4 linked regions of the Homo sapiens genome follow. The protein of the gene in region 1 purifies or fractionates together with the protein of each later gene. This does not show direct contact. Each region holds a gene or a part of one and is shown in the gene's direction. Other genes may lie near its edges.

The links.
Region 2: the proteins of LRRTM3 (region 1) and SGPL1 purify together in Homo sapiens (co-immunoprecipitation; 2 studies listed by BioGRID and IntAct, with this or other methods). This does not show direct contact.
Region 3: the proteins of LRRTM3 (region 1) and GPC4 purify together in Homo sapiens (co-immunoprecipitation; 2 studies listed by BioGRID and IntAct, with this or other methods). This does not show direct contact.
Region 4: the proteins of LRRTM3 (region 1) and PCYOX1 purify together in Homo sapiens (co-immunoprecipitation; 2 studies listed by BioGRID and IntAct, with this or other methods). This does not show direct contact.

The regions. Positions count from the first base shown.
Region 1 is NC_000010.11:66,921,036-66,929,044, forward strand, and holds the start of LRRTM3 (leucine-rich repeat transmembrane neuronal protein 3 precursor), read left to right. Parts: upstream 1-5,000; 5' UTR 5,001-5,548; coding exon 5,549-5,552; intron 5,553-5,885; coding exon 5,886-7,417; intron 7,418-8,009. UniProt on the Homo sapiens protein: Exhibits a limited synaptogenic activity in vitro, restricted to excitatory presynaptic differentiation. May play a role in the development and maintenance of the vertebrate nervous system.
Region 2 is NC_000010.11:70,867,940-70,874,960, forward strand, and holds part of SGPL1 (sphingosine-1-phosphate lyase 1), read left to right. Parts: intron 1-405; coding exon 406-494; intron 495-1,852; coding exon 1,853-1,958; intron 1,959-3,108; coding exon 3,109-3,207; intron 3,208-3,897; coding exon 3,898-4,047; intron 4,048-5,411; coding exon 5,412-5,650; intron 5,651-7,021. UniProt on the Homo sapiens protein: Cleaves phosphorylated sphingoid bases (PSBs), such as sphingosine-1-phosphate, into fatty aldehydes and phosphoethanolamine. Elevates stress-induced ceramide production and apoptosis.
Region 3 is NC_000023.11:133,307,483-133,314,503, reverse strand, and holds part of GPC4 (glypican-4 precursor), read left to right. Parts: intron 1-3,080; coding exon 3,081-3,246; intron 3,247-7,021. UniProt on the Homo sapiens protein: Cell surface proteoglycan that bears heparan sulfate. May be involved in the development of kidney tubules and of the central nervous system.
Region 4 is NC_000002.12:70,253,371-70,261,140, forward strand, and holds the start of PCYOX1 (prenylcysteine oxidase 1 precursor), read left to right. Parts: upstream 1-4,766; 5' UTR 4,767-4,794; coding exon 4,795-4,906; intron 4,907-5,989; coding exon 5,990-6,196; intron 6,197-7,770. UniProt on the Homo sapiens protein: Prenylcysteine oxidase that cleaves the thioether bond of prenyl-L-cysteines, such as farnesylcysteine and geranylgeranylcysteine. Only active against free prenylcysteines and not prenylcysteine residues within prenylated proteins or peptides.

The DNA.
Region 1 (8,009 bases):
ATATCCTGGGTGGTTTAAACAGTAAGCATTTATTTCTCACAGTTCTAATGGCTGGGAAGTCCAAAATGAAGGTAACAGAAGACCTGATGTCAAAGACAGCCTGATTTCTGGCTTCTTAATAGCTGCCTTCTCTTGTAGCAGAGAGAGAGAAGAAGCAAGCTCTCTCATTTCTGTCTCTTTTTATCCTTATAATCCCACTGATCTGTCATGAGGGCTCCAATACCATGACCTAATTACCTCACAAATGCTCTATCTCCAAATACCATCACATTGGGAATTGGGGTTTCAATATATGGCTTTTGGGGACGGTAAATGAGAACATCCGATCCACAGCAGTGATCCTTTTAATAGGTTATTTGATCACATACTAACTCTGCACAAAAATCTCCAGTTAGCTCCCCGTTTTCTCCATAATAAAGCCAGTATTCTTAGAATGTCATCCAAAGCCCTCCATGACCTCCATCTCCAATTATTCTATCACTTGGTCTCTCCATTCTAGACTCATTGGCCTCCTTGTTGTTCATGGAACACATGATCTGCTTCCACATTAGGCCTTTGCACTGGCCACTCCCCATATATACATTTAAGTCTCACAAGCTCATATCCTTCAAGGTTTGCTCAGGCCAGTTTCTTAATGGCCCTAACCATCCTATTTAAAACTCAGCCCACCTCATACCTTGCACTCCCAATCTTCCTTATATTTTTCTTTTTTTTCATAGTACATATGACCTACTAATATACTGTATATGTTTATTTTTAATTGTCTGTCTTATCCCTTTAGAATGTAATCTTCACAAGGGTACAGGCCTTTATTTTGCACACAGATGTATTCCCAGTGTCTGGAACAGTGTTTAGCACACAATGGTTATTCAAATTAAATATTTGTAAAATAAATAAAATATCTGAAGTCAACAACTGTTAAGATATCAGTCCATTCTCTTTCAGTTATGAATTTCTAAGTTTATATCTGGCAACTCAGTTTCATATTGGACTAAAATTTGGCAGTATTGCCAAACTGAGATTTGATTTATTTACCCAATTTAAACAAAATATGTTTAGCTATTTGAAGTCCTATAAGCACAATAAAATAAAAAGTCTTTAGATACATGACACTATTTTTATAATTGTATAAATCATTAAGGCCCTGGATGCATTGGGGATATTTAACTCGTCAGGTAGTTTACGGTTTGTTCTGTATGCGATATTAAGTGCAAAAGAAGTTGCTAGTTTCTAAATACATAATGCAATATAATTTTGCTTCTGCTGAAAGGCAAATCAGAAATAATCAGCTCGCTATAGTCGACAAGTAAAAGGAGAAAAAACTTTTAAAAAGTATACAGGCAAATTACTAAAATCTTTTAGAACACAGTCTTTTCTTTTTCTCTTGAGGGACTACTCTATGTCTTTGCAGTAACTTCTGCAGCCTCAAGTATTCAGTGTGGCTTAGAATCACATTATTTTGTTTTGGATTTCTCAACTAGCCTCATGGATAATCTTCCCTCTTCAAACAATTTATTATCCTGAACCAGATCAGACCTGGTTGTGATGCCGACTTAAGGGGTCGTGCCAAAGTAGGGGCCATACACAGTTCCTGGAGGCTGACTCAGTCCAAGAGTGGCTACTGATTACTGTTGAGAAAGAGATTGATGGTCAGTATTTTTTTCCTTAATATTATTTCATTATGAACATTTTTCCTTGTCAATCAATACATTGCTACCAAAGCAATTTTTGTTGTAGCACATCATTCCTGTCATATAGTTTTGTTTTATTTTTATTTTATTTTTTATTTTTGTGGGTACATAGTAAGTGTGCATGTTTATGGGGTACATGAGATGTTTTGATATAGGCATGCAATGTGTAATAATCACATAAGGGTAAGTGTGGTATCCATGCCCTTAAGCATTTACGCTTTGTATAAAAAACAATCCAATTATACTTTTAGTTATTTTTAAATGCACAATTAATTCATTATTGACTATAGTCACCCCATTGTGCTAGCCAATACTAGGTCTTATTTACTCACTCTAATATTTTATACCCTCAGTTGTTAGTATTAAGACTAAATAAATATTAATCATAAGATCCAAAGGGTAGGTGTAAAGTCAGAACTATGCAGTAAGATAAGATCAGGAACCAAGATAAAAGAAAAATGTCTGAAAACTAAGAGCAATGTGTGTAACACAGCAGAGAATAATATTCACCGTAAATAATTCAAGAAGATTTATCCCAGGAAAAGCAAAGTGAGAGCCCACATTCTCAGTGGGTTCCTCTGTTCTTCTGTCAATGGGAAGTAAAGTATGATGAGCAAGAAGCACAAAGTTAATGGGTCCTCCAGCCTCCTGGAGTGGCTCTCTGCAGCTCTTGGGCAAAACAGATGTCTCAATGACTACGTGGGAGAGTGAGGGGAAAACTCAGAGCCTTTCAAGCAACAGAGGTGTGAGAGAGAAGTTATCAATATAATTCTCATTAGTCTGTTTTTGAGAGATACAAGTTGTCAAGCCCATTTGGGATATTAAATGATAAGGGTTCAGTATTACCCTTCTGTGCTGTGCAAAGGAGAATAGTCAAAAGCATATTTACTGTTCTCATGAAATTTGTAGTTTAACTATGAAGACAAGATATCTGTGAAAAGTAAAGATCACTTTCTGATCAACTAAGTTTTCTCACTTTCTAGTTTTTGTCTTTGTATATACCTCCTTTAAGAATACTTTCTCCAAAATTGTTTCCAGTCTCACTGACTGAGGAAATTTTCAGGACTCAATCCCATGTACAAATGTTGAACATTACATAATCAGTTATACTATATCCATTGTACTTGTGACTGATATAAAAACATATTTTTTTCAATAGCTATTTATTGCATGTCTGCAATGTGCCAAGTGCTGTTGTAGATATTAGGAAAAATGAAGTAGACAAAACATTGTCTTTGTCCTTGTGGAACTTACATCTCAGTATTATAAGTGTGCAAACCCTCTCTTCCTACTAGGAGAAAATATTATTTTTAATCATTCCTTCACAGTGAGTTTCTTAAACTTATTTCATCAGAGACTATTGAAAAGCACACACTCTTCCATCCCCCTAGAATGAGAATCCTGGGGGAGGGATTGGGCAGTCTATCTTTTTAAGAAACTCACTGGATGTTTCATGTGCATTCACAGCTTAGGTAACTCTGGGGGAAAGCACTGCCCTATTAAGAACATACTGCCCAAGGAATTGGTAATATCCATTGTACTATATCTGTAGGACCCCTTTTGATTGTCATTACTAGCCTTTATCAAACATCTCATCCTTGGAGAATGTGAAAGCTCTCCACGGTTTTCCACAGACAGTTCACCTAACAAAAAACAACAAGGCAAACTTTTTCAAGAATACCATTATTTTTAAATAAAATGCCTCTACATGGCAGATGTTATTATGTTCTACTTTGGAGATGAAAAGAATCGAACATTATTAGTCATGATCCACAGAACCAGAAGATTTATTTTAAAGATAAAGTTCAGATGATGAACATAAAGGAAGTTATCTCATCAAAGAAGGCAAGACTGAGTAAATCTCAGAAATCCACCATGTACAATATTTAAAAATGCTCACTAAAGTTGTTCTTTGTGAGTTAATGAAGGTCAGTATAGTCAATATTCAGTACGTAATCCTAGCAAGTACAAATAAAGTTAATATTATTCAAATATCTTACACAGGCTTATTGCATGCAACACACTGTTCTAAGTAACATACAGATATTAAAATGACTTAATTCTCAAAACATGAAGTGAGTTTTTGTTTTTATGCCCGTTTTGCAGATGAGAAAACTGAGGCATAGGGAAGGTAAGTAACGCGCTTAAGGTTACATAGCTGGTAAATTGTAGCCAGGAGTTGGAATCTAGGTGCCAAAATCTATGCTGTTAATCACTAAACTACGCTGCCTTAGTTTTTATACTTCTTTAGGAACCTCAGACCAAAAGAAATTTAGGCAATTCTAATAGAACAAGCAAGAATTTGCTAATCACAGCTTCCTTGCCCCAATCCTTTAATCGGCTTCATTTTCACTGACTTCTTTTTTAAATGAAGATAACAATGTTGTTGAACAGGATCATCTAGTGGTTAGTGGTTCGGCATAAGAATGACTCGCTTCTGAAGCTCAGCTCTAGCACTCGCTTGCTGTATGACCTTGAGAAAGTTACCTCCCCAAGTCTGTTTCCTCATCTTTAAAAGAGAGGTTATAATAGGACCCACATCATACTATTGTTTAAAGAGAAAACAACGTAGCCCATTTAAAGCACTTAGAAAGTGCTCCATAAATATTATTAGTGTAATAAATAGCAGCAACATCAATAAAGTATGAACCAAATGATCTCTTGATTCGTATCCTAACACTAAAAATGGTTTATTTCCCTTCTAATTAAAAGAGAATTACAACAACCAAAACAACAAACGAAACTATAGCCATAAAATCAATTATATCGTCTGTGAGAAAACCGGAAAGGCTATTGGACACATTAATTCACTTGTCATCAGTCATCCCCTCTATTCCAAAATGTTTGTGTTCTAACATCCTGAGACACCTTGCATAATATAATCACTGTGACTCCAAGAGGTCAAATGGGCAGGCAGTTAATGCTTCTCTGTGAAAAGCTCAATAATTCATTTTATAAATTTCAGTTTAAAGCCTGCGTTGAGGTTAAGAAAAATTGACGTTCGGTCTGTGAACTTAATGTCAAGCTCCAGAAAAACTCTGGGCAGCACATGTTTAGCAATTAAGTGGACACAGACAATAAAGACGTTGCCAAATTGTAAAACAAGACTTGGAAATCACAGAAAATGTTGCTAGTTATTGATCACGGTGACCATTCAGTTCCTACTGAGCCACCCAAAAGAATCATTCATTTTCCAGCAGAGAGCCTGCTCATTTGCAAGATAAAAGAGAGACATTTCTGCACATGCCCATAATGTTCTTCACCACTGGGGGCAGCTTTACATAAGACTGCATTCACTGAAACCAAAGCAACAGTCCGAGCAGCTTTCAGAATGACAGTCTGCAGAAGTGAGCTGAGCGTGTGCGCGGTACGGGGCTCTCCTGCCTTCTGGGCTCCAACGCAGCTCTGTGGCTGAACTGGGTGCTCATCACGGGAACTGCTGGGGTATGGAATACAGATGTGGCAGCTCAGGTAGCCCCAAATTGCCTGGAAGAATACATCATGTTTTTCGATAAGAAGAAATTGTAGGATCCAGTTTTTTTTTTAACCGCCCCCTCCCCACCCCCCAAAAAACTGTAAAGATGCAAAAACGTAATATCCATGAAGATCCTATTACCTAGGAAGATTTTGATGTTTTGCTGCGAATGCGGTGTTGGGATTTATTTGTTCTTGGAGTGTTCTGCGTGGCTGGCAAAGAATAATGTTCCAAAATCGGTCCATCTCCCAAGGGGTCCAATTTTTCTTCCTGGGTGTCAGCGAGCCCTGACTCACTACAGTGCAGCTGACAGGGGCTGTCATGCAACTGGCCCCTAAGCCAAAGCAAAAGACCTAAGGACGACCTTTGAACAATACAAAGGATGGGTATGTTTTGTCATTTTTCTTCTTTCCTTCTTAAAAACAAAAAACAAAAAACCTCTAGTGTGTGTAATAATTCTGCCTTAATTATTTTAGAGATTACCTTGCTCTGCTCTAAGACTATGAATTTATTTGCTTAGTGGCATGTTTCCTTGTTTAACTATTTAAAAAAACAAAACACTAAAGACAATTCTCTTTAATTACAAAGAGATAATATGTGATGTTAAGTGTTATTTAGATTTAAATTTTTAAAAATGAAAAATATATGCCTATTTTTGCTTGATTAAGGATTAATTCTTTTTTGGGGGGATAACTTTTCTAAGTTGTTTTTATTTCCAGGTTTCAATGTAATTAGGCTACTGAGCGGATCAGCTGTAGCACTGGTTATAGCCCCCACTGTCTTACTGACAATGCTTTCTTCTGCCGAACGAGGATGCCCTAAGGGCTGTAGGTGTGAAGGCAAAATGGTATATTGTGAATCTCAGAAATTACAGGAGATACCCTCAAGTATATCTGCTGGTTGCTTAGGTTTGTCCCTTCGCTATAACAGCCTTCAAAAACTTAAGTATAATCAATTTAAAGGGCTCAACCAGCTCACCTGGCTATACCTTGACCATAACCATATCAGCAATATTGACGAAAATGCTTTTAATGGAATACGCAGACTCAAAGAGCTGATTCTTAGTTCCAATAGAATCTCCTATTTTCTTAACAATACCTTCAGACCTGTGACAAATTTACGGAACTTGGATCTGTCCTATAATCAGCTGCATTCTCTGGGATCTGAACAGTTTCGGGGCTTGCGGAAGCTGCTGAGTTTACATTTACGGTCTAACTCCCTGAGAACCATCCCTGTGCGAATATTCCAAGACTGCCGCAACCTGGAACTTTTGGACCTGGGATATAACCGGATCCGAAGTTTAGCCAGGAATGTCTTTGCTGGCATGATCAGACTCAAAGAACTTCACCTGGAGCACAATCAATTTTCCAAGCTCAACCTGGCCCTTTTTCCAAGGTTGGTCAGCCTTCAGAACCTTTACTTGCAGTGGAATAAAATCAGTGTCATAGGACAGACCATGTCCTGGACCTGGAGCTCCTTACAAAGGCTTGATTTATCAGGCAATGAGATCGAAGCTTTCAGTGGACCCAGTGTTTTCCAGTGTGTCCCGAATCTGCAGCGCCTCAACCTGGATTCCAACAAGCTCACATTTATTGGTCAAGAGATTTTGGATTCTTGGATATCCCTCAATGACATCAGTCTTGCTGGGAATATATGGGAATGCAGCAGAAATATTTGCTCCCTTGTAAACTGGCTGAAAAGTTTTAAAGGTCTAAGGGAGAATACAATTATCTGTGCCAGTCCCAAAGAGCTGCAAGGAGTAAATGTGATCGATGCAGTGAAGAACTACAGCATCTGTGGCAAAAGTACTACAGAGAGGTTTGATCTGGCCAGGGCTCTCCCAAAGCCGACGTTTAAGCCCAAGCTCCCCAGGCCGAAGCATGAGAGCAAACCCCCTTTGCCCCCGACGGTGGGAGCCACAGAGCCCGGCCCAGAGACCGATGCTGACGCCGAGCACATCTCTTTCCATAAAATCATCGCGGGCAGCGTGGCGCTTTTCCTGTCCGTGCTCGTCATCCTGCTGGTTATCTACGTGTCATGGAAGCGGTACCCTGCGAGCATGAAGCAGCTGCAGCAGCGCTCCCTCATGCGAAGGCACAGGAAAAAGAAAAGACAGTCCCTAAAGCAAATGACTCCCAGCACCCAGGAATTTTATGTAGATTATAAACCCACCAACACGGAGACCAGCGAGATGCTGCTGAATGGGACGGGACCCTGCACCTATAACAAATCGGGCTCCAGGGAGTGTGAGGTATGAACCATTGTGATAAAAAGAGCTCTTAAAAGCTGGGAAATAAGTGGTGCTTTATTGAACTCTGGTGACTATCAAGGGAACGCGATGCCCCCCCTCCCCTTCCCTCTCCCTCTCACTTTGCTGGCAAGATCCTTCCTTGTCCGTTTTAGTGCATTCATAATACTGGTCATTTTCCTCTCATACATAATCAACCCATTGAAATTTAAATACCACAATCAATGTGAAGCTTGAACTCCGGTTTAATATAATACCTATTGTATAAGACCCTTTACTGATTCCATTAATGTCGCATTTGTTTTAAGATAAAACTTCTTTCATAAGTAATCCCCCACATTCGCTGTTAGCCTCCTGGTGGGACCAAATCTACAGTTATAGAAGGTTTGCACCTCACTGGCAAATCAAGGAAAGAGGTGAATGATTCCAGGTGCTCGGAGCTTGAGCTGATTCTTGGAGATGACTCAGTTATGGGAACATTTTACAGACAGGCAGAGCCTTTAAACCAATGCCTGACTTAGAAAAGAAAATTGCAGGAAACTATCAAAAGATGGTGCTAGGTTAAAGCAGCACCCTGAGCAGTTTCCAGAGGTGT
Region 2 (7,021 bases), 3.9 Mb from region 1:
CTAGAATTGTAATCACAATTTCACATTCTTTAACAGGTATTGAAAATTTAAATTAAAATTCTGATATTTTTGAATGGCATAAAATGCCCTATCTTATCTGAAAATTGAAAAATTAATACAGAAATGTAAATGGATTGTGAATAGGTGGGATCTGGCCAAGTGTGCATTTGTCTAGGCAGTGCTGAGTTTCTGCTCATTATTTAGTAGCTTTCATTCTTCACCTGAGCCAAAATTAGGCTTAGCCAATAAAGCCAAATTTTCCTTCTGGAAGACATGGCAGTGTCTGCCTTGCAGCATGCATCCAAGACCTTATCTGTTTCTGTATCAAACATTGTCAAGATCAGGGCATGAAGAGCCGGGGCATTCCTGACTCCCCCAACAGATGGCATCTCTTCTTTATTATAGGTGACTTCTGGGGGAACAGAAAGCATACTGATGGCCTGCAAAGCATATCGGGATCTGGCCTTTGAGAAGGGGATCAAAACTCCAGAAATGTATGTATGTGTGGCTGTTTTGTCCCCTTTTGGATTTGTCTGTCTGGAGTACAGCTTTATGAAACTAAAGCAGATAATCCATTTTCCTGCTGCTTCTCTTCCTCTGGTAATTCTGGTCCCCTTTCCCCCTGTCCTAGCCCCTCTGCCCTTATCCTTTTACATTCAGTAAAATTCTAAATGGATCAGCCAGTTATTTTTAAAGATCATTCCCATCCCGCCCCACCCCCAGATCATGCATAGTATATACTACAAGCAAAAATAAGATCCTTTTTCCAAAAGTGAGAGTTTGAGGACTACATCTTTGAATCCTGTGATATTTGCAAATTATTTGGAGCCTAAAGAAACCTCTCTAGGTACTTTAGTTCTGCTTACCTTAGAAAGTTACTTAATATTATAGGCTGCCTCAGGGTACTCTCTGGGAAAACTTTAGTGTGAGGGCTGTTTTCTGGGAGGAAGAATAAAAATATCTTTTTGAGATTTACCCACATTGCCTTCCTTGGACATAAATTTGATGTTTAGTTACATTATTTTTTCCTAGACTGTCCCCTTGTACAGTATGTTTATCCTACATCTTAATATTTTTACTGCAAGTATTACTTGACAATGGGGATTTATTGCATATGGTCTCATGCTGTGGTTCATATGTAGCATAAGAGAATAAACCAGGCTGCCATTCTTTCTTCATATGTCGATCTTTGGTGCTTGGTACTTCCTCAGTAGTAGAGATTTTTCTCCTTAGAGGGAACAGATTCGTTGTATGAATGGAGTAGTTGAGGAAAGTCTAAAGCAAATACCCGTGACCTCATTTTCTCTTTCAACACTATTTGAAATACTATTTCCAAATGTGTAGGAGAAATGGGGATTTTAGTTTCTTCAGGTTTGTTGTCTTTCAGAGTTGGAAGGGGCCACTGAGCTGATGCTTGGCCGCTGTGTGAACATTTCTGCTTGAACATGTGTTGTGCCGGGAAGCCTTCTTCTCATTCTCACTGAGGTGCCTGTCTTTGGTAGGCAACCGTTAGCCAGCTCTGCCTTGTGTTGCTCTCATCCAAAGTCTCTGTCCCCCAGCTTTCCGCCTGCCAGCCTAGCTTTATGCTTTGGATCCCTCACTGTGGGATCACTTCTGAGTCCTCTTCCTATTGCCAGAATGATTTCCTAAATAGGAGGGAAGTTTCTGCAGAAAATCAGTTGGCCTCTTTTTGGGTGTGCTTAAAAAGAAAAGTAGAGCAGTCTAAACACTTAAATTTTTAATTTGGGGAAAAATAATCAGAACTTACTCCCGGTAATTTAGATTAGCTGCTAATGGTGTTTTCTATTATTTTGGCCTGAGTTACATTATTCTCCTCTTCCCTGTCATTTAGTGTGGCTCCCCAAAGTGCCCATGCTGCATTTAACAAAGCAGCCAGTTACTTTGGGATGAAGATTGTGCGGGTCCCATTGACGAAGATGATGGAGGTGGATGTGCGGGTGAGTCCCTCTGGAGGGCCCACTGTCTGTGCTGGGCCCTGACAGCAGAAGGGCCCTCCTGTTGACTAGCCGTTTCCAGTCAGATGGGTCTGACTGCCTTTGATTGTGGCAGCCAGAATATGAAAAACTGCATTGATAGTGGTGATTGACTGCAGCTTCAGTCTTTTCATAGGTTCATGAATTCTGAAAGGGAGGTGATCTAGTCACTAACTTGGGACTTGAGAGACACTGGTTTTGCGGTCAGCGCCATCACTTTTTCTTTCTTTTCTCTATTTGTAAAATGAACATGGACTCACTTCCCCTAAGACTCTTACCATGGCCCGGGCATGGTGGCTCACATCTGTAATCCCAGCACTTTGGGAAGCCGAGGAGGGAGGATTACTTGAACCCTTGAGCCCAGGAGTTTGCGACCAGTCTGAGCAACATAGTGAGACCCCATCTCTACACAAAATTTAAAAAAGTAGCTGGACATGGTGGCATGCACCTGTAGTCCTAGCTACTCGGGAGGCTGGGGTGGGAGGATCACTTGAGCCCCAGGAGGTTGATGCTGCAGTGAGCTGTGTTCACACCACTGTACTCCAGCTTGGGTGACAGAGCAAGACCCTGTCTCAAAAAAAAAAAAAAGACTCTCACTGTGGTTTAGATTGGCTTAAATTAATACCATTGTCATTATGATAGTGATTATTTTTATGCCTCACATTTGTGTAGAGGAGTTTTCTAGTTTCAGTGTTCTGTCAGAATCCCATTTGAGCTTTATGACATTCCAGAGAGGTTGATGAAGCTGTTATATTATTGTAGTTCACAGATAAGGAACAGACTGAAGTAGCATACTCAGGGTTTCACTGCTGGTACGTTGTGGGGCTGGGGCTCACATTTGGCTCTTTGGCCTCTTAGCTCAATATTATTTTCGCCCCCACAGCGATTCTGTTCTTATTTTGTGCTCTCAGACTATTCTCCAAATGGACTTACCTGGAGTCACCTGTGTCCTGTCACCGTGGTGGGATGCAGTCTTCTCCCAGTTGGAGTGGTGAAGGAGGGGGTACTGGTGGAACTGGAACTCTAAGCTAGCAGCCCAAATTGCTCTTGGCAGCAGAAGAGAAGAGTAATTGTGACATAGATTCTCATTTTCCTTTAAACTTTAAATCCCTAGGCAATGAGAAGAGCTATCTCCAGGAACACTGCCATGCTCGTCTGTTCTACCCCACAGTTTCCTCATGGTGTAATAGATCCTGTCCCTGAAGTGGCCAAGGTATATGAGAGAAATGGGCTGCTAAGGCAGGCAAATGGATATTTTAAAACAAAGCCTAATGGGGCAGTACTTGGCAAATAGAAGCGATTTTTTTTTTGTTTTTGACCACAGTAGTGATAAGTAGCTCTCATCAGCCCTAGGGGAAGCCCTGCAGCTCAGTTGCAAGCCTTTAAAAGTTGCTAGTCTCTGCTGTGGGGGAAGATAGTACAAGGCTGAGGCCTTTTAAACTGGAAATTCTGAAATAGGATTGCCTTCTAGATTGAGATCTGGAAATAATCTGCATGTAGGAATGTGCCCACCAAAAGGGTGATATTCCACATGCTGCCCCTCAGCGCCTCCCTTTCCCTCACGCCTCATCCTGCAGTGACTGAGGCAGGACCTTTCCCTTGTGCGAGAGGCAGCCTAAATCAGAGCTCTACTCATTTCCTGCTTGATACCGCAGAGCGTTTGAGGTCATGCATATTTAAATATAAAATTGATACCATATTTCAGATGAATTATTTTGAAGGGAAAATACATTTGAAAGATAAATTTTGTTGGGAATGTTAAAAATAGCCATTTTTTAAAAACATGGGAGGCATAATACAAAATAGCCTTGTGTTTATAGCCCATCTTTCCACCCATGTCTTGCAGTTTTTATTATAGGGCTATAAAGGAAATTCTCTTATGTTCTTTGTTTTTTGGAACAAGCTGGCTGTCAAATACAAAATACCCCTTCATGTCGACGCTTGTCTGGGAGGCTTCCTCATCGTCTTTATGGAGAAAGCAGGATACCCACTGGAGCACCCATTTGATTTCCGGGTGAAAGGTGTAACCAGCATTTCAGCTGACACCCATAAGGTGAGCTAAGGAGGAGATCAAGTGTTACCAGTTGATTATTTTGACTATTATTGATAAAATAAATTGGTAGCTTCCCCGCAAAGTATAAAATTAACTATAGAATTCTCATCAGATGCTTGTTTTAAACTCTCTCTTTGCCGTCACCAGATCAGCTGGTTCAGGTGATGGGGTATAGTGGTAGAGGTGACAAGCAGTAGTGAAAATGAACCTGTTACCTTTATCTCAAATTGGCTAAGAGAATTTCTGTATCCACTGACTGTGTGTAACTAGAACATGCTAGTGTAGTGGCCCTTGTTAAAAAAGCTCCCTGAAGCCTTGAGCTGATTTGAGGTGGAGGGTAGAGGAGTGTGAGGGTTGGTAGTGGAGTTCCCATGCTGGTAGATAACATTAGAGCTGCTGTGCAACTGGGCTCCTGAGCGTACATGACGGGAAAATGTTGACGGAAGAGTCCTTTGGAAAATGGGAAGAACCTGTGTGCTCAGGAACATTCAGCATTTGAGATGGCCACGCCTGCCACCCTTGGTGGACTGAGACAAAGTCTAGATCAGTTGATAACGCTATTGAATATACATCCAGATGTGGAAGAAGTATTAGCAGCCTCAGGAATGTGTACCTTGTTTTGATTGCATTTTCAGAGCTTGTTTTAAACTCAAGTATATTAAAGACTTGTTTTTCAAAATCGGTGTGATCTGCAGCCGATTTTCAGTCAGCATCTGTTTTTTCCTTACCATCCAGATAGCTCCTGTGTCCTTTTCCCATAACCATCCATTTCTGGATGGTTCAGGTAATGAAATTAGTTCCACGTTAGTTTTAATAAGAGTTAATTAGGGGGTCAGATGTTCTATAAGGAAACCAGTTACATAGTTAATTTTAAAGCTGGATTAAGTAGCTTTTAGTTTCTGAGCACCATTATGTTCTCATAAGCATAATATTCTTAGTAATACTAAGCAAAAAAAGATGGGAAGGGGGTCAGATGGTGATTTTAACTTGAAGTGACAAATTCCATCCTTTCCTGGCTTCCATTGCAAACTTACCCTTGCTTTCATCCTGACATATGGTCTCCAGAGAAATATTTTAAATAAGGTAAACCACATGCTGGGCAAGAGAGGGAGTAAACCGATTAACTGGGCGCTGTTCTTCCCTGGGTCTCAGATTCCTCATTCCTAACAGAGAGAATTTAAACTCCATCCCTTAAGTTCCTACTATCCTTTAGCATTTTAAGTTTGAATCCTTAATGTGAGTGGGAAACATAACAGAGAAACTGAGAAATAAATAGGATTTCCTTTGCATGATGAGAGTTCTGGGACAAGGTCTGCCAGACAGAACTATACTCTCACTTTTCTTGTCTGCTACTTCTTCCACAGTATGGCTATGCCCCAAAAGGCTCATCATTGGTGTTGTATAGTGACAAGAAGTACAGGAACTATCAGTTCTTCGTCGATACAGATTGGCAGGGTGGCATCTATGCTTCCCCAACCATCGCAGGCTCACGGCCTGGTGGCATTAGCGCAGCCTGTTGGGCTGCCTTGATGCACTTCGGTGAGAACGGCTATGTTGAAGCTACCAAACAGATCATCAAAACTGCTCGCTTCCTCAAGTCAGAGTATGTGTGGAAGACTGGGGTTCTGCCTTGTCTATTGCTTTTTTGTCCTAGTAGGCTCAAGGCACCTGCCTGGCTAAGTATCCATAGCCCTAGCCCACCTGTTGTCTCCTGCGATATAGAGGGCTTAGGGCAGCAGCTTAGGGCTTAGGCCAGACCAGCTGGCCTGGGAGAAGAAGCTCCCTTTCTCTGCCCTGACTTTTGGAGGGTCTTTGAGACGGGGGCCTCATTTGTAGTTTATCTCATCTCTATGGATGTCTTAATAACTGGCAGCTCTTACCCTAAGGCTAATGTACAATTTAATGGTTAGGACAGTGATTCCCAAACTTGAGCATGCATTCTAATCACCTGAAGGACTTGTTAAAACACAGGTAGCTGGGCCCACCCCTAGAGTTTCTGATTCAGTGGAACTGGGATGGGCTCTAAAAATTTCCATTTCTGGAGATACTGATGCTACTGCTCCAGGAATCATACTTGAAGAATCATTGGAATAAGAAAATAATTGGAAATGGGCCAGAAGGAATGAGGAAAGGAGGGCAATGAAATCTTGGGTTAAGCCAAGGCCAGAACAGGCTGCATGCTTTGTCTAATGTATCTGTTAACATCTTATCTGCCCATCTCTCTATGTGTCACTTGGATTGGGGAGGCTCTTTAAGTATATTGAGGGGGAAGGAAAGCTGCCTGCAGGCATTTCTCATTTGAGAAAGATCCTTGGCCAGGCACGGTGGCTCCGGCCTGTAATCCCAGCACTTTGGGAGGCCAAGGCAAAAGGATCGCTTCAGCTCAGGAATTAAAGACCAACCGGAGCAACATAGTGAGACATTATCTCTACAACAAATTTAAAAATTAGCCATGAGGCCGGGCGCGGTGACTCATCCCTGTAATCCCAGCACTTTGGGAGGCTGAGGCGGGTGGATCACCTGAGGTCCAGAGTTCAAGACCAGCCTGACCAACAGGGAGAACCCCGTCTCTACTAAAAATACAAAATTAGCCGGGCGTGGTGGCGCATGCCTGTAATCCCAGCTACTCAGGAGGCTGAGGCAGGAGAATTGCTTGAACCCGGGAGGCAGAGGTTGCGGTGAGTTGAGATGGCACCATTGCACTCAAGCCTGGGCAACAAGAACGAAACTCCATCTCAAAAATAAAAAATAAATAAAAATAAAAATTAGCCACATGTGGTGGTGTGCACCTTTGGTCCCAGCTACACAGGAGGCTTAAGGCAAGAGGACTGCTTGAACAGCCCAGGAATTTGAGGTTACAGTGAGCTATGATCACACCACTGCACTCTAGCCTGGGTGACAGAGCAAGACCCTGTCTCAAATAAATAAGCAAACAAATAAATAAAAATTAGATATATATAAAAGGTCCTCCTAT
Region 3 (7,021 bases), on another chromosome or scaffold:
GCCAGCACTTAGCCAAATAATGAAATGGAAGAACTCTGCCAAACTCAGCATCATAATTTCCCTTAATAAAACTCTACTGTGTCATTTAGTTTGGTCTCTTTTTAAAACTTGAGCCTCCATCAGCCTATTTTAGGGGAGGGTACTACAAGGTCTGTTGCATAAATGATTTGACTTGCAATTGAACTAAGAATACAATGAACCACTTCCTAGAGTTATTTTTTAAAAGAATGAGAAAGGACTTCTTTGAAAAAAGAAGTGTTTTCTGAATATAACTATTTTGGGTCTAAAATTTTTGCTCATTTCCTAAAGTCCTGTACCACATTGGAATTGCTTTGTATTTTGTAGAACAGGTTTTGTATTCTAATATAGAAATTCTTAACTTGCCTTGTTACCTAAATTCAAATGCATTCCAGAATAATCCCTGGCACATAGTAGGTGCTCAGTAACTATTTGTTGACCCCTTAGCTTTCTACGTTTCTTCTTACGAGGGCATTGTCTCCTCTTAAGCATAATATTCAACAAATGCCACGTGCTATTCAGTGATTTTTCATTTCATAGCCACTTGCATAACTTTTACCTCTTTAAAATCTAGCCATTTTGCAGTCTCATCAATGTGGAACCCAACTAAAACTAAAGTAGGAAATAACCAGTGCCTAAGATTACAGTTTCCTGTCATCTGGCAGGGAAACGTGATACATCTGGGAAATCTTTTCATCACAAATGCTTGATAAGGTATAGTACTGGAATCCGATGTTGTGAGGTGACTGTCAGCAAGTTGCTTAATCTCTTTGGCTTTGGCTTGGTTTTTCTTATCTATCAAATGTGAGAGCAACACTCAGTGATCTCTCTGGTCCCTTCCAACTCTAAGACTTCTGTGATCCTATGCTTCTCAGGCCACCTCCCCCCTCCAGTCCTGTTTGCTCCTTTACAAAAGGAGAGGGGGACATGTAGGGAAGTCTTAACAATCTGTGACTTTAAAGGAATGAACTTTCAGCTGTCCAGCAAATCTGGCTATCCAGAAAAGGCCATTCCTCCAGGGTATATTGGTTAGCCAAAATTTTACTGTACATTAATACATAGTTAGGACTAATTTAGTGCCTAGGAAAACATTTGGGAATGGTTAAAACTGTGGAAAAATCTTAATTCTTGGTAGGGCAGTGTATACAATTACCATTTTATTGTTACACGTATTCCCCCCTTTTAGGCTAGAGCCTTGTTTGGGATGAGGGGAATGGATGTGCACATGCATCACGTAGGAGCCTGACTGTTTTTTTTCTCCTGACACCACTAATCCCCTGTTCCTGTTCCTAAGGGCACTGCTGATAAGTGATATCCAAAGTAACACTCCAGAGCAGGTGAAGTGCATTGCCGGGCTGCCCTGCATCCCAGCATCTCTTCCCTGTGGTGGTATCTGCCTCCAAAAGTCTGTGTTAGCAGAACTGGTGGGTACTTACACAGAAGAATGCACTAATCCTCTGATACTGACTCCAAAAGAGGAGGGTGGGGCAGAGAGAAAGAGGAGACAGGAACTTTTAATTAGCTGCTAGAATGCTATACCTAGCCCCAATCCTTTCTAAGCATTGAGGAAAACAAGTGACCGGATGGAATCAGCTCTTCTACACCCCAAATAATTTCACTTTATAAAACTAGATGAAATGAAGTCCCATTTCTCTGGAGAGGACAGCCAGCCCAATCTGACTTGGGTAATGTTTCTGTCTTTCTTCCTTTCCTTCCTCACAAACTTCCAGTCATAGCCCCATGTGTCCTGCCATATGGTGTCCCTGTTTGTTTGTTTCTCCTTTCTTCCTTTCTTTCTTTTTCTTTCTTCCTTTCCTTTCCTTTCCTTCTTCCTTTCTTCCTTTCTTTCTTTCTTTTGAGACAGAGTCTCACTCTGTCACACAGGCTGGAGTGTAGTGGTGAGATCTCGGCTCGCTGCAACCTCCGTCTCCCAGGTTCAAGCAATTCTTCTGCCTCAGCCTCCTGAGTAGCTGGGACTACAGGCACACACCACCATGCCCGGCTAATTTTTGTATTTTTAGTAGAAACGGGGTTTCACCATGCTGGCAAGGCTGGTCTCGAACTCCTGACCTTGTGATCCGCCCACTTCGGCCTCCCAAAATGCTGAGATTACAGGCGTGAGCCACCGTGCCTGGCAACTGGTATCCCAGTTTCTGCCTGATGTTTAAGCCCCTCTAAATTCTGGCCACACGCATACTCCTGTGCACCTGACCTTATTTCCCGCAATTCCCCAACCCCATTCTGAGATGCAGTGACATGTCCTGTACTCTCCTACAGGTTTTGTTCATTTCATTGAACTTAACTCAGGATGCTCTCCCTTTGTTTGACCACTTAAGTCCAGCCCCTTTCTCGAAAATTTAACCAAAGCCCCACCTCTTTCATCAAGTGTTCTGTGAACACTCTGTGCTTTAGTACTCCCAAGCCTTGGAAAACCTTCACACACCCCCTAAGTTTAAGATTACTCATATTCTGCCTTGTAGAATATATTAACTTTGCCTTCTGCACAGCTCTTGGCACAGAACAGAAGACACCGTAGGTACCCTTCTAAACCTTAATTTGGGGTTAGGGTTCAAAGGACAGCCTTGTAGTCAATGTAATGCAGAAGAAGATGTGCTTCTGTTCCAGTCTGGCAAAGACAAACACTGATGGTTGAGGCTATTAGCAGGACGTGCATGGTGGGCACATGAAGATAGTCTCCTCCACTGCATCTCATGGCTCACCCTGCATAGTTATTTGTAAAAGGATTTTGAGATAATTGAGCAATTTATGTGTGTGTGAGAGAGAGACTCCAGGAGGGAAGGGGGTGGGGGAGGAATGGGTGTTTACAGGGTGGGAGTTGGTGCACCTTGTTTGTTTTGGGTCATCTCCCTCCTCTCCCCTGTCCCAACATGTATCTTTTATCTAATCTATGTCTTCAGGAGGCAGTCCAGGCTTACTAATTGTGATCAATCACAACTCATTCTTAAGTTCATGGCCAAGCCTTCAGTGTCAATGTGATAGAAGCAATTTCTGTCTCTATTTTAGCCCCGCCACTACTGTCTTTTTTTCTTTTCACACATTAGGTAAACCCCACAGCCCAGTGTACCCATGCCCTGTTGAAGATGATCTACTGCTCCCACTGCCGGGGTCTCGTGACTGTGAAGCCATGTTACAACTACTGCTCAAACATCATGAGAGGCTGTTTGGCCAACCAAGGGGATCTCGATTTTGAATGGAACAATTTCATAGGTGAGCAAGTGGTTAACATATTTGTGTTGCTGGAGATAGCTTAGCTTCCAGTCACAAGGAATGTTGTAATTGGCAGCTATGAAATTTGTTTGTTTAAGTGTTTGCTATTTAGTGTTTGTCAGAATCCTGACTACGCTCAACTACTTTGAGAATAGTAAAAACATTACTGCAAGTGAATGTTCCCTCAAACTAATGGTGGCATTTCTGAAGGTAATAGATACAGTGGCTGCCAGGTTTTAATAATGAGAAAATGCCTTTTTCTTGGAGACAGAGTCTCTTTCTGTCACCTAGGCTGGAGTATAGCAGCACAATCATAGCTCTGTGTAACCTGAAACTCCTGGGTTCAAGCGATCCTCTCACCCTCAGCCCCCCAAAAGCCCTGGGATTATAGGCATGAGCCACTCACTGAGAAAGTGTCTTTTTGATATTTCCCGCCTGAAAGTCAGTTGTGTTTATGATTATAGGCTTGTATCCATGTAAATGCTGGAGTACAGTCCTCATGGAGTTGTAAAAGTGGCTTTTAAAATGTTATATCTATTACACTGCAACTAAATCTTCTGCAAACCGGCCAGATACGCATTTGTTATTTGGATCAGGTGAAATCTGATTGAGAAATTCAGGGATTCTGTTTCTGTACACCATTTAGCAGTAGTAGTCTGCTCTGGTGAGAGTGGAAGGACTTTAGCCCTGAGAATTTAAGGGATACATATTCCTGCATATATATTCCACCTAGAAAACCATTCTCAGAACCCAGACAGCAATGTAAATGAAGTGGCCAATTGCAGAGAGGGTTAGTTATGATTTTGGGGAAAGGACAAATTAAGGAGAATTTAAATGTCCAGTTGTCAATTACCTTGATGCCTGAAGCAACAGTAACCAGTGTTGAAGTTCCTTATGCTGAGTATTAGTAGGACCGCACACACATACTAACAGCTCACAAAAAGAAACTCACATTTTTCCCCACCCTAGTCACCTTTGCATAATTGCCGAATTTGAGTGTCTTTATAAGCACCTGTTTTTCACTTATTTGTCCAAATCATGGGAACATGTATGCAGTATTCTGGCTTGGTTTTTTGGGGGGAGGTGAGGGGTGTTAATGTTGGGGAATGCTTTTTAGTCTGTGTGAGAGCTAATTACCATATTAACTCCGTTTGAAAGTGCATCAATAAATTGGCTCCAACAGATTCTTAAGAACACTGACACAGGGGGATAAAAAAAGATGTGAATATTAAGCACTTCAGCACAATTGTAGCCTAAATAGCTCAAAGCTAGAAGACCTGAAAAAATCTTCTACACACAGAAAAGCAGAATCTCATGAAAGGGAAGGCATAAGACCAGCAAAGACATACAGGCCAAATGGCACATCATGCCCAGAATGAAGCCATGGGAGAAATTGTTGATTCAAAATATTTCTCATGGAAGTAAAAACCCATAGAATTTCCAGATCTAAAGTCGCTGTTTTTGTTTTCTCTCTCTCTCTTTAATCCCACACTCATCCCCACACCCAAATGTCAAGTTTGCAGTTCACTTTTGCAAAATTGAATTTTTAAAGAAAGTTGGTGATCCTTTTCAATTGCCCCTATAATTCACTGTTTCTCCAGGCAAGGTAGTAGAATTTGCCATATGGTACAAAAAAGTGTATGGTGACAGTGATCGAATTCTGCTGACTTTTCTACAGACACATTGGGAATGGAATGCAGAAGGGCATGGCCCTTGCCACTATTTTGATACTCTAACATGTCTAGCAGCAACTATAACTAAACTCATATCCTTATATTAAAATACAAATGCTCCTACGTGTTTTTCCTGGAGTTTACAGGTCCATATCAAATCAAAACCACACTCTGGCTTTCTTTATTGATGTTTTAAATCAGTTACTCGAAAACAAAGAGGACTTAAGTTGCTGTTGTTGTTCTTGTTGGGCATTTTTAAAATTACATTTGTTATCTTTGAAGAAACAAACCCAAGTAGAAGTTGATAGGATTTCTGAATCGATTTTTCCCTAGTTATTTTAAGTGATAACTTTTTGGAGGGATGAGGTATATAATTGTATCTAAACTTTGTTTTTAATGGGTATACTATTCTTTATTTCTAATAAGCAGATATAAAAGACCAGGAGTAATAGACATTGTTAATCTCCAGTGCTTTTTCATGAATTTTTCACAAGGGTTTAATTAATCTGCTTTGTGGTTGTAGAATTCAGTCCCAATTTACATGCCTCTGCTGTAAATTCTTTTTTTATTTCTTGTCTCTCTCTCTTTTTTTTTTTTTCTGTTTGCAAGGAATTTTTCTTTCCCCTTTAAATGACTGCAGCTAATGAATGGTCAAGGGCTTTTTCCCCCTTCTTTAAATCAGATCTTGGGGTTAAGTCGGGAAACTGCCTTTTGTTCTTCCAGTCAGGTCGGGAGGCTGAAGATGTGGGTTTCTGATTATTGGCAGCACAATGCAAAAGGAATCGCTTTCCCTAGTGAGAAGGGGATGCTTTGTTGCTGGGGGTATGGGGGGAAACTCAGTGCCAGTGTCTTGAGCACTGAAATAATGCAGTTGGACTAGACCCTTTAAGAGACTAAGGATGAACTGGTTTTCCAAATCCGTCTTCTTGTTGCCATGCTCTTCCTCTCCTCTCTTAACTGCATCTGCAACTGGCCATGAATTGAGACCCTTTAGTAAATGTTGAAGTCTTGTCAGCCTTTTATCAGGATGGATCCAAATAGTTAAAACACCTTAGAACTTGGTTTTATAAGACGCTGGTTTATATGAAACCTTCACTTGGAAATATAAACCAAATACCTCCCTTGCCCCCACCAACAAAAGTCAGTTTCTGGAGAATCATAAATTATGCTATGCAACTTGTTCTCCATCACATACTGTAGCTGTGTTAACACTCATTTGACTCAGGGCCAACCCTATTAATGTCGCATGTTGCTGCCAGTGGGAATTTAGTATTGGGATTGCTGGCGGGGACACCAGCCAGGTCCTGGCAGGAGGCAGGAGCCAGTCAGATATCCCGCAAACAAGGGCCTCCGTGGCTCGTATCAGCCAGAAGAAAACCCAAACTCCAAACCAATCATCTTTGGCTTTCTCTTGAGGCTTCTTATCAGGGCTGGCTGCTGTTACAGAAGAGCCAATTGATAGCCAATCATGACTTCCTCCAGGGGTTAGAGGCAGCTTTGGCTCCCGGGCTGCAGAGTGCAGGCAGAATGCTCTTCAGTTGCATTCTTCAGCTGCGCAACACACAACACCATGGCACCGGCCCCAACAAAGGCCCAGCTTCCCCCTCCATTCCCAGGCTCTTGTGTATAGCCGGCTGGCTCAGAGTTTACAAAGACGCCAAACAGCCAGAAGAATTGGGGTTTATGTTTCCTTTCAGTCTTTCACAAACACATTAGTGATCTGGCCATTCCTTGCCACTAGGGGAATAAGGAGTTACAAAATGCACTGGGTTTTGTTGTTGTTGTTGTTGTTGTTATTTAAACGTCTGCATTTTAGATGTTTATTTTCTGTCTATTCATAATATTTTTATTGGGAGCAGGTGATTTCTTCTCAGCTTACGAAGGAATGTGCTTTCTGTACGTGGCAGCCCTGATGATTTGACAATGATGAACACATTTAAGTTGTGCTCCACTTGTTTACAAAAGTCTCCTTTTGCTAGCACATCAAAAGCATTTTTTTTCTCTCCTGTAGTACAATGGTATATTCATGCTTTCAGCCCTTACTTAGAGTTAGAAGCATCACTTGATTGGCGCTTACCACAATGCATTCTGAAACTTCATTT
Region 4 (7,770 bases), on another chromosome or scaffold:
ACTACAGGTGCACACCACCATGCCAGGCTAATTTTTTTGTATTTTTTCGTAGAAACGGGGTTTCGCCATTTTGCTCAGGCTGGTCTCGAACCCTGGGCTCAAATCGTCCGCCTGCCCTAGCCTCCCAAAGTGCTGGGATTACAGGTGTGAGCCACTGAGCCCAGCCTCTTTCTCCAAGTTTAACTTTATTTTGTATCCAACCTATTTTCTTCTCATCTATATTGTTCTTCATGTTCATGTACTAGTTATTTTTGTTTGTTTGTTTGGGTGAAGTATTGTAATTACAGAAATGAGACTTTTTTTTTTTAAATGAAAGGCCTCACATATTTATTACTGAACCCAGCCAACCAATGCGTTCATAACAGATTCGGAGAGGAAAACACGTCGAACTCTCCAGATAGGGGTGACATTTTCAGCTTGATATGGTAACGTGATCGTGACCTTCAGACAGCATAAATATGTGTGCCATCTCATGTACAATTCCTTATAGACCCAGCTTGGTTCTTCTCCAATGTCTCCTTTTGGAGTTGTACCTGATTTTATTTCCAGTTTTCATCCGAATCCACTGGGGAATGGGACGATTTTGCTTTTGTTTCTTGGGCAGGAATCACTTAATCCTGAAAGTCTTGTGAGAAGACATGGTGAGGGTGGAGTCAAGAACACACCACGATGGCAGAGAAAGGAAAAGAGGCATGAGATCATTTTATACCCATCATGCAACCACAAGCTTTTCTCAACTGATAATACTAGGACATTAGTTATAGACCCATTTTTTTTTTTTTTGAGACGGAGTCTCACTCTGTCGCCCAGGTTGGAGTGCAGTGGCGTAATCTTGGCTCACTGCAGCCTCTGCCTCCTGGGTTCAAGCAATTGTCCTGTCTCAGCGTTCCTGAGTAGCTGGGATTACAGGTGTGCGCTACCACGCCTGGCTGATTTTTATATTTTTAGTAGTAGAGACAGGGTTTCACCATGTTGACCAGCCTGGTCTCAAATTCCTGACCTCAGGTGATCTGCCTGCTTCAGCCTCCCAAAGTGCTGGGATTACAGGTGTGAGCCACTGCGCCAAGCTCCAACATTCTTTTTTTGTAATTTTTTTTTTTTTTGAGATCAGCCTGTCAGGTTGGAGTGCAGTGGTGCAATCTCAGCTCACTGCAACCTTGGCCTCCCAAGTTCAAGTGATTCTCCTGCCTCAACCTCCCAAGTAGGTGGGATTACAGGCATGCATCACCACGCCCAGCTAATTTTTGTATTCTTAGTAGAGGCAGAGTTTTGCCACGTTGGCCAGGCTGGTCTTGAACTCCTGACCTCAGATATTCTGCCTGCCTTGGTCTCCCAGAGTGCTGGGATTACAGGCGTGAGCCACCGTGCCTGGCTTCCTTTTAATGCATGCATAATGTTCTATTGTATGGTATGTTGGGGAGAAAAAAAGAGTTTTCCTCTACCCTTCCGAGGTTTTGGTTGTGATAGACCCCTGTAACAAAAGACAGATTAACAAGAAGAAAACAAACAGGACCAGGCATGGTGGCTCATGCCTGTAATCCCAACACTTTGGGAGCCCAGGAGTTCCAGACCAGCCTGGGCAATATGGCAAAAAACCATCTCTACAAAAAATGTAAAAATTAGCTGGGCATGGTAGTGGATGCCTGTGGTCCCAGGTACTCTACTCTGGTGGCTGAGGTGGGTGGATCGCTTGAGCCCAGGAGCGAGAGGTTGCAGTGAGCCGTGATAGTGCCATTGCACTTCAGCCTGGGTGACAGAGCGAAGCCATCTCAAAATAAATAAAAGAAAGAAAGAAAAAAAGAAAAACAGAAATTTAAAAACATGTACGTCACGTATTCAAAAGAGAGACCAGGGAAATGAGCAAATCTCCAAGAGGTAGCTTTGAATTCAGGATTATACAGCATCTTCAAAAAAGAACAGTATATGTTTAGAGAAGTGTTAAGAGAACCGGGCACAGTGACTCACGCCTGTAATTCCAGCACTTTGGGAGGCCGAGGTGGGCGGATCACCTGAGGTCGGGAGTTCGAGACCAGCCTAACCAACACGGAGAAACCCCATCTCTACTAAAAATACAAAATTAGCTGGGTGTGGTGGCGCTTCCCTATAATCCCAGCTACTCAGGAGGCTGAGGCAGGAGAATTGCTTGAACCCGAGAGGCGGACGTTGCCGTGAGACTGCGCCATTGCACTCCAGCCTGGGCAACAAGAGCGAAACTTCGTCTCAAAAAAAAAAAAAAAAAGAAAGAAAGAAAAAAAAAGAGAAGTGTTAAGAGAAGGAAAATGATTTTGAGTCTCTAGGGGTGGCAAATTATGGGAAGGCAAATACGCGATAGAAAAAGGCTCATTAATGAAGTTTGTCATGTAGATTCCTGGCTGATAAAGGTTTGTCAAAAGACAAAATTACAACTAATTTAGTTTAAAGAGCATAATTGGCTTTTAGTTGCGATTGTAGAATTGTGCAACACCTCATTTTATAAAATCGAATGAGTGTTCCTATGAGTTGAGTGGAGGAGGTTGGCTTTCAGAAAGGGCTGAAGAAAGCAGAAACAGAAAAGTGCATTGGTTGTTTCGAGGTTACTTTCCTTGAAAAGTTTAAAGCAGAGGGTATTTCCTTATCATGTCACTTCAAACTGGTCTGTCGGGAATTTGGCTATTATTTTTCTTTCTCCTGATTTCTTAGAAAGTCAGATCGACAACTTAGTTTTGACCTTGTGATGTGGAACATGAGTGACTTGAGTGACTCCATTTTGGTTTAGTCTGTTGGGCCTAGTCTAGTGCAGGAGCTCAGTCCAAACCAATGGCTTCCTATGAATTTTATTTAACAGGCGTAAAATTGTCTTTAGTGATTAACCTTTGTCCTTCCAGGCAGTGTGGGAAGAGGGATACCTTTGCCTTTTAAAATTTATGTCCTGCTTTACTTCAGACATTACACTAAATAGGAGTGTTGAGTATAAAAATGAATTCACAATTAAAGTTGTTAAATTATTTGTATATAACTTTAAAAGGAGTTTTTTTGAAGCTTTGTAATTACATTGAAAGTATATTTGTTTCCTTGAAAACAATTTTTTGAAAAGTGAATAATAATATAATACAGCTTTCAAATTACTTTATGCTGTTACTTTATTTCTATTGTATTCACATGTGAAAGTATGTGATCAGTTGTTGCTGTATCAGAGATATTAGAGATTCTTTATTAGTTGGGCATTCTTTATGACCTTTTCTATAAAAGAGTAAGGACATTAAAATGTAAGATGCATGATAAAAATATAAGTAGCGAGGCTCATTGTAGTTAGCCTAAATTAAGTAATGTTTAAGGTAGGTGTTCATGGCCAGGCGCGGTGGCTCACACCTGTAATCCCAGCACTTTGTGAGGCCGAGGCGGGTGGATCATGAGGTCAGGAGATCGAGACCATCCTGGCTGACACACTGAAACCTCGTCTCTACTAAAAATACACAAAATTAGCCAGGCACGGTGGCGGGTGCCTGTAGTCCCAGCTACAGGCTGAGGCAGAAGAATTGCTTGAACCCGGGACGTAGAGTTTGCAGTGAGCTGAGATCGCACCACTGCACTCCAGACTGGGCAACAGAGCGAGACTCCGTCTCAAAAAAAAAAAAAAAAAGTAAGTGTTCAGAGTAATACTTTTCTACATTATACTGAGAGAAATTATAAATTATAAAGTATATCAAATTATATTATTTTACTAATTTTACTTTTATGTAATAAAATGCAATATATTTAAAAATTGTTAAAAAAATAAAATTTATGTCCTGCTTTTAGGCAAATGGGGAAGGCGGAGAACTTTCCACCCACGTATCTACATCGTATCTACATCTTCTCAATTGTCTTCGGCTTGAAATAATCCTTAGGCTAAAGAGGCGTATTTTGGGGTGGCACATTCTGGTGTCCTTACAGGTACACTACTTTTATTCATGTCTGTTACTACTATTACACCCCCTTCACCTTGGGCCACCCCATCCTCAGTCTCCCTCATTTTTCTTTACAGTTAGCACCATTTACCCATTCACGGAGAACCTTACAGTTCTCGCAACAGGGTGATCACTCAGTAAGTACTGTTGTCCCTTTGGTCTGTTTCTGGCAGCGATTAGCTGTGCGCATTCTTTGAGAGGAGCGACGGAGGGAACAGAAGAGGGTACTAGTGAAGAACTAAGGTGCTTCACCCAAATAGATAGGGAAGGAGGAGGAGAGCTGAGGCGAGCCTCAGCTTCTGCCTTTTTTTTTTTTTTTTTTTTTTTGAGACGGAGTCTGGCTCTGTCTCCCAGGCTGGAGTGCAGTGGCGCAATCTCGGCTCACTGCAAGCTCCGCCTCCCGGGTTCACGCCATTCTCCTGCCTCAGCCTCCCGAGTAGCTGGGACTACAGGCGCCCGCCACTATGCCGAGCTAAATTTTTGTATTTTTAGTAGAGACGGGGTTTCACCGTGTTAGCCAGGATGGTCTCGATCTCCTGACCTCATGATCCACCCACCTCGGCCTCCCAAAGTGCTGGGATTACAGGCTTGAGCCACCGCGCCCGGCCAGCTTCTGCCTTCGATGTCTTCTGAAGGAGGGTGGGCTTCGAGGCGGCAGGATGTGCTTAGGGCACTGAGTGGCCCAGAGTGGGGAGCTCCTGCAGGGTTGAGAGGACCGGCGGGGCGAGGTCGGGGCGGGGCTCGCAGGACCTGGGCGGGGCTCGCAGGGGCTGGGCGGCCTGGGGGCGGGGCTGGGCGGAGCGCGCAGCCGCGCAGCGGTGGGAGGACTGCGGGGCTCTTGAGGCCAGCTGCAGAGCTTGTGGAGGCCATGGGGCGCGTCGTCGCGGAGCTCGTCTCCTCGCTGCTGGGGTTGTGGCTGTTGCTGTGCAGCTGCGGATGCCCCGAGGGCGCCGAGCTGCGTGCTCCGCCAGATAAAATCGGTAGGCGAGAAGGGGGCGGCGCGGGAAGGTGCTGGAGCGCGCCCCGCGCCGGGCGGCCGCTGCGCAGTGCGCCCAGATCCCACAGCCGCGACGCAGTCCAGCGGTGCAGGCCGAGCCAGCTGCGCAGGTCGCGCTTTCCCCCATTCACACTTCAGGGCGGCTTTCAGCTCTGGTCGGAATAGGACTGTGCATTCCCAGGCGTGGAGAGGTGCCCACTTGAGGAATGGGCGTGGACGGGGACAGGGGCGGGCGGGCAGGCAGGCGCCTAGCGTACCTGTAGCCCCTGTCTCTTAGGTGTGGGGCTCCGGGGAGGCCTAGGTTTCTCTATCTTCCCGTTGAACACTGACCGTGAAGACTCCAGTGTTCTGGCTTGACCTGGGGCGCCCGGCCAGATTAACAGGCTCACGCAGGCACAGCACAGGGAGGAGTGCAAACAAGTTGACCCTGCCTGCTTCCCTTGGGAGGCTGAACCGCCTTCCCCCAGCTCCGCTTTGCTGAGGTCGGCCTGCTCTCAGAGGCCCTTGGCTTGCACAGTTTCTCCGCCTAGGACTAACACAGCTGCAGAAAGAATCTGTTCTCTTTCCACTGTCAAGAGCTCCAGTGTCAGGAGCCTTGGCTCTTTGCTTCCTGTCTCCCTCCCGCCCCCCTTTAAAGTTGTGTTCTTCGGTATCATTAACCTATCTACATTGAATCTAGACACAACAAAGCTAGGCATAAATGGCCGTCACTTTATTAAAAATGCGTGCTGGAAAGGTCCACCTCTAATGTGCCCGTGAGTTGGGCATCTGGAAGGGTGTGCAGGCCCCTTGGTTCCTCCATAAAGACCTGTGAGAATCTTTGGGCATCTGGAAAAAAAATCGAGTTAATGTCAATATGTTAATTAATCTACTGCTTTTGTCTGGGAACAGTGTCTGTCCAGATTCAGGGAGTTAGACCTTCGCTGCAGGTGTCACTCTTCCCCCACCAAATTGTTGGTAATAGCTTTGAGTAACAACCTCTGCTATTGATGGTCTTTCAAAAACAAAACAACTCACAGAGCTGGTAAAAGGGGAAAATATAATCTTCTGTTTTTTTCCCTCATAGCGATTATTGGAGCCGGAATTGGTGGCACTTCAGCAGCCTATTACCTGCGGCAGAAATTTGGGAAAGATGTGAAGATAGACCTGTTTGAAAGAGAAGAGGTCGGGGGCCGCCTGGCTACCATGATGGTGCAGGGGCAAGAATACGAGGCAGGAGGTTCTGTCATCCATCCTTTAAATCTGCACATGAAACGTTTTGTCAAAGACCTGGGTATGTAATTTTGGTCTTGGAGCTCACCAGATTACTGTGTGACATCCCCGGATATTTTTATCAGATGGAGAACTGAAATTTCTGCCTTGTTAATTGCCTTACAGAGACGTTGGTAAAACTGTTTTCCTCACTTTCTTGTTAGTTGGTACTGCCTGAGTTAGGAGCAGTTCTGCTGTAATGGGACACTAGTTGTCTGTATCTTCAGTTATCTGGAATTACAGCCATGGGGTGGGGGTGGGAATGGCTGCCATTGTCTTTTTTTTTCTTTTGAGGAGTTTCGCTCTTGTCGCTCAGGCTGGAGTGCAATGGTGCGATCTTGGCTCACTGCAACCTCTGCCTCCCGGGTTCAAGCGATTCTCCTGCCTTAGCCTCCTGAGTAGCTGGGATTACAGGTGCCTGCCACCACGCCCAGCTAATTTTTGTATTTTCAGTAGTGACGGGGTTTCACCATGTTGGCCAGCTGGTCTTGAACTCCTGACCTCAGGTGATCCGCCTGCCTTGGCCTTCCAAAGTGCTGGGATTACAGGGGTGAGCCACCGTGCCCGGCCTCTGTTGTCTGTTCTTAAAATTCTGGGTTTGTGTTAAAGAATCAGAGAAGGTTTGGAGATAGTCATCTCATTGTGATCATTTTGCAGCTGAGTAAATGAGACCCAGAGACTTGAATTGTCTGGCTCAAAGTCACTCACATATGGCCATGGCCAGGGTCAGTGGCTCATGCCTGTAATCCCAGCACTTTGGGAGGCCGAGGCAGAGGATCACTTGAGCCCAGGAGTTAGAAACCAGTCTGGGCAACATAGTGAGATCCTGTCTTTACTAAAAATAAAAAAGTTAGCCTGGTGTGATGGCACAAACCTGTAGTCCCAGCTTCTTGGGAGGCAGAGGCAGGAGGATCCCTTGAGCCTGGGAGATAGAAGCTGCAGTGAGCCTTGCATGCCACTGCACTCCAGCCTGGGCAACAAAGTGAGACCCTATCAAAACAAACCACCACCAACAAAACAAACTCCGTCACACAGCTGTGGATGCAGACACGTGCCTAGAACTTGGGATGTGCAACTGCTGCCCTGACAGCAGAGGAGCTGGATAGGTCATGGGGAAAGTCTGACAGGCCTCTGGAGGCCCTTTCGGCAGGGAGTATTTTGTAACTTTGGCCTCCTTCCAGTTATCTGAAATATCCAGTTTTGCAAAATAGGATTCTCACAGGAATGGAAGTGCCTCAGCTGCCTTCCACATCCTCTGTAGATGCTGCCTCTGCTTCCGTTTCCTCCACGAGGGCGAAGGTATACCCAGAACAAATTATGCCACGAAGATGCATGTCTGACATCTTTGTTTTTAAATTGAATTCAGTTGGTACTCTGGCTTTTTTCCTTTGACTATCCAGTTTTTTTAGACTTTTAGTCTAAAAATAGCCAGGTAAAAATATATCTACTTTTGATATATTAATATTTACATGATCATCTGACCCATCGCCTAGCAAATCTGCTTTTGGACAGTGTAGTGAAAGTATAGTGTTTCACACTGTTCCAAAGATAGAGCTCCTTTATGTGTCTCCTGAGAACTGAGGGAAGCCCCAAATT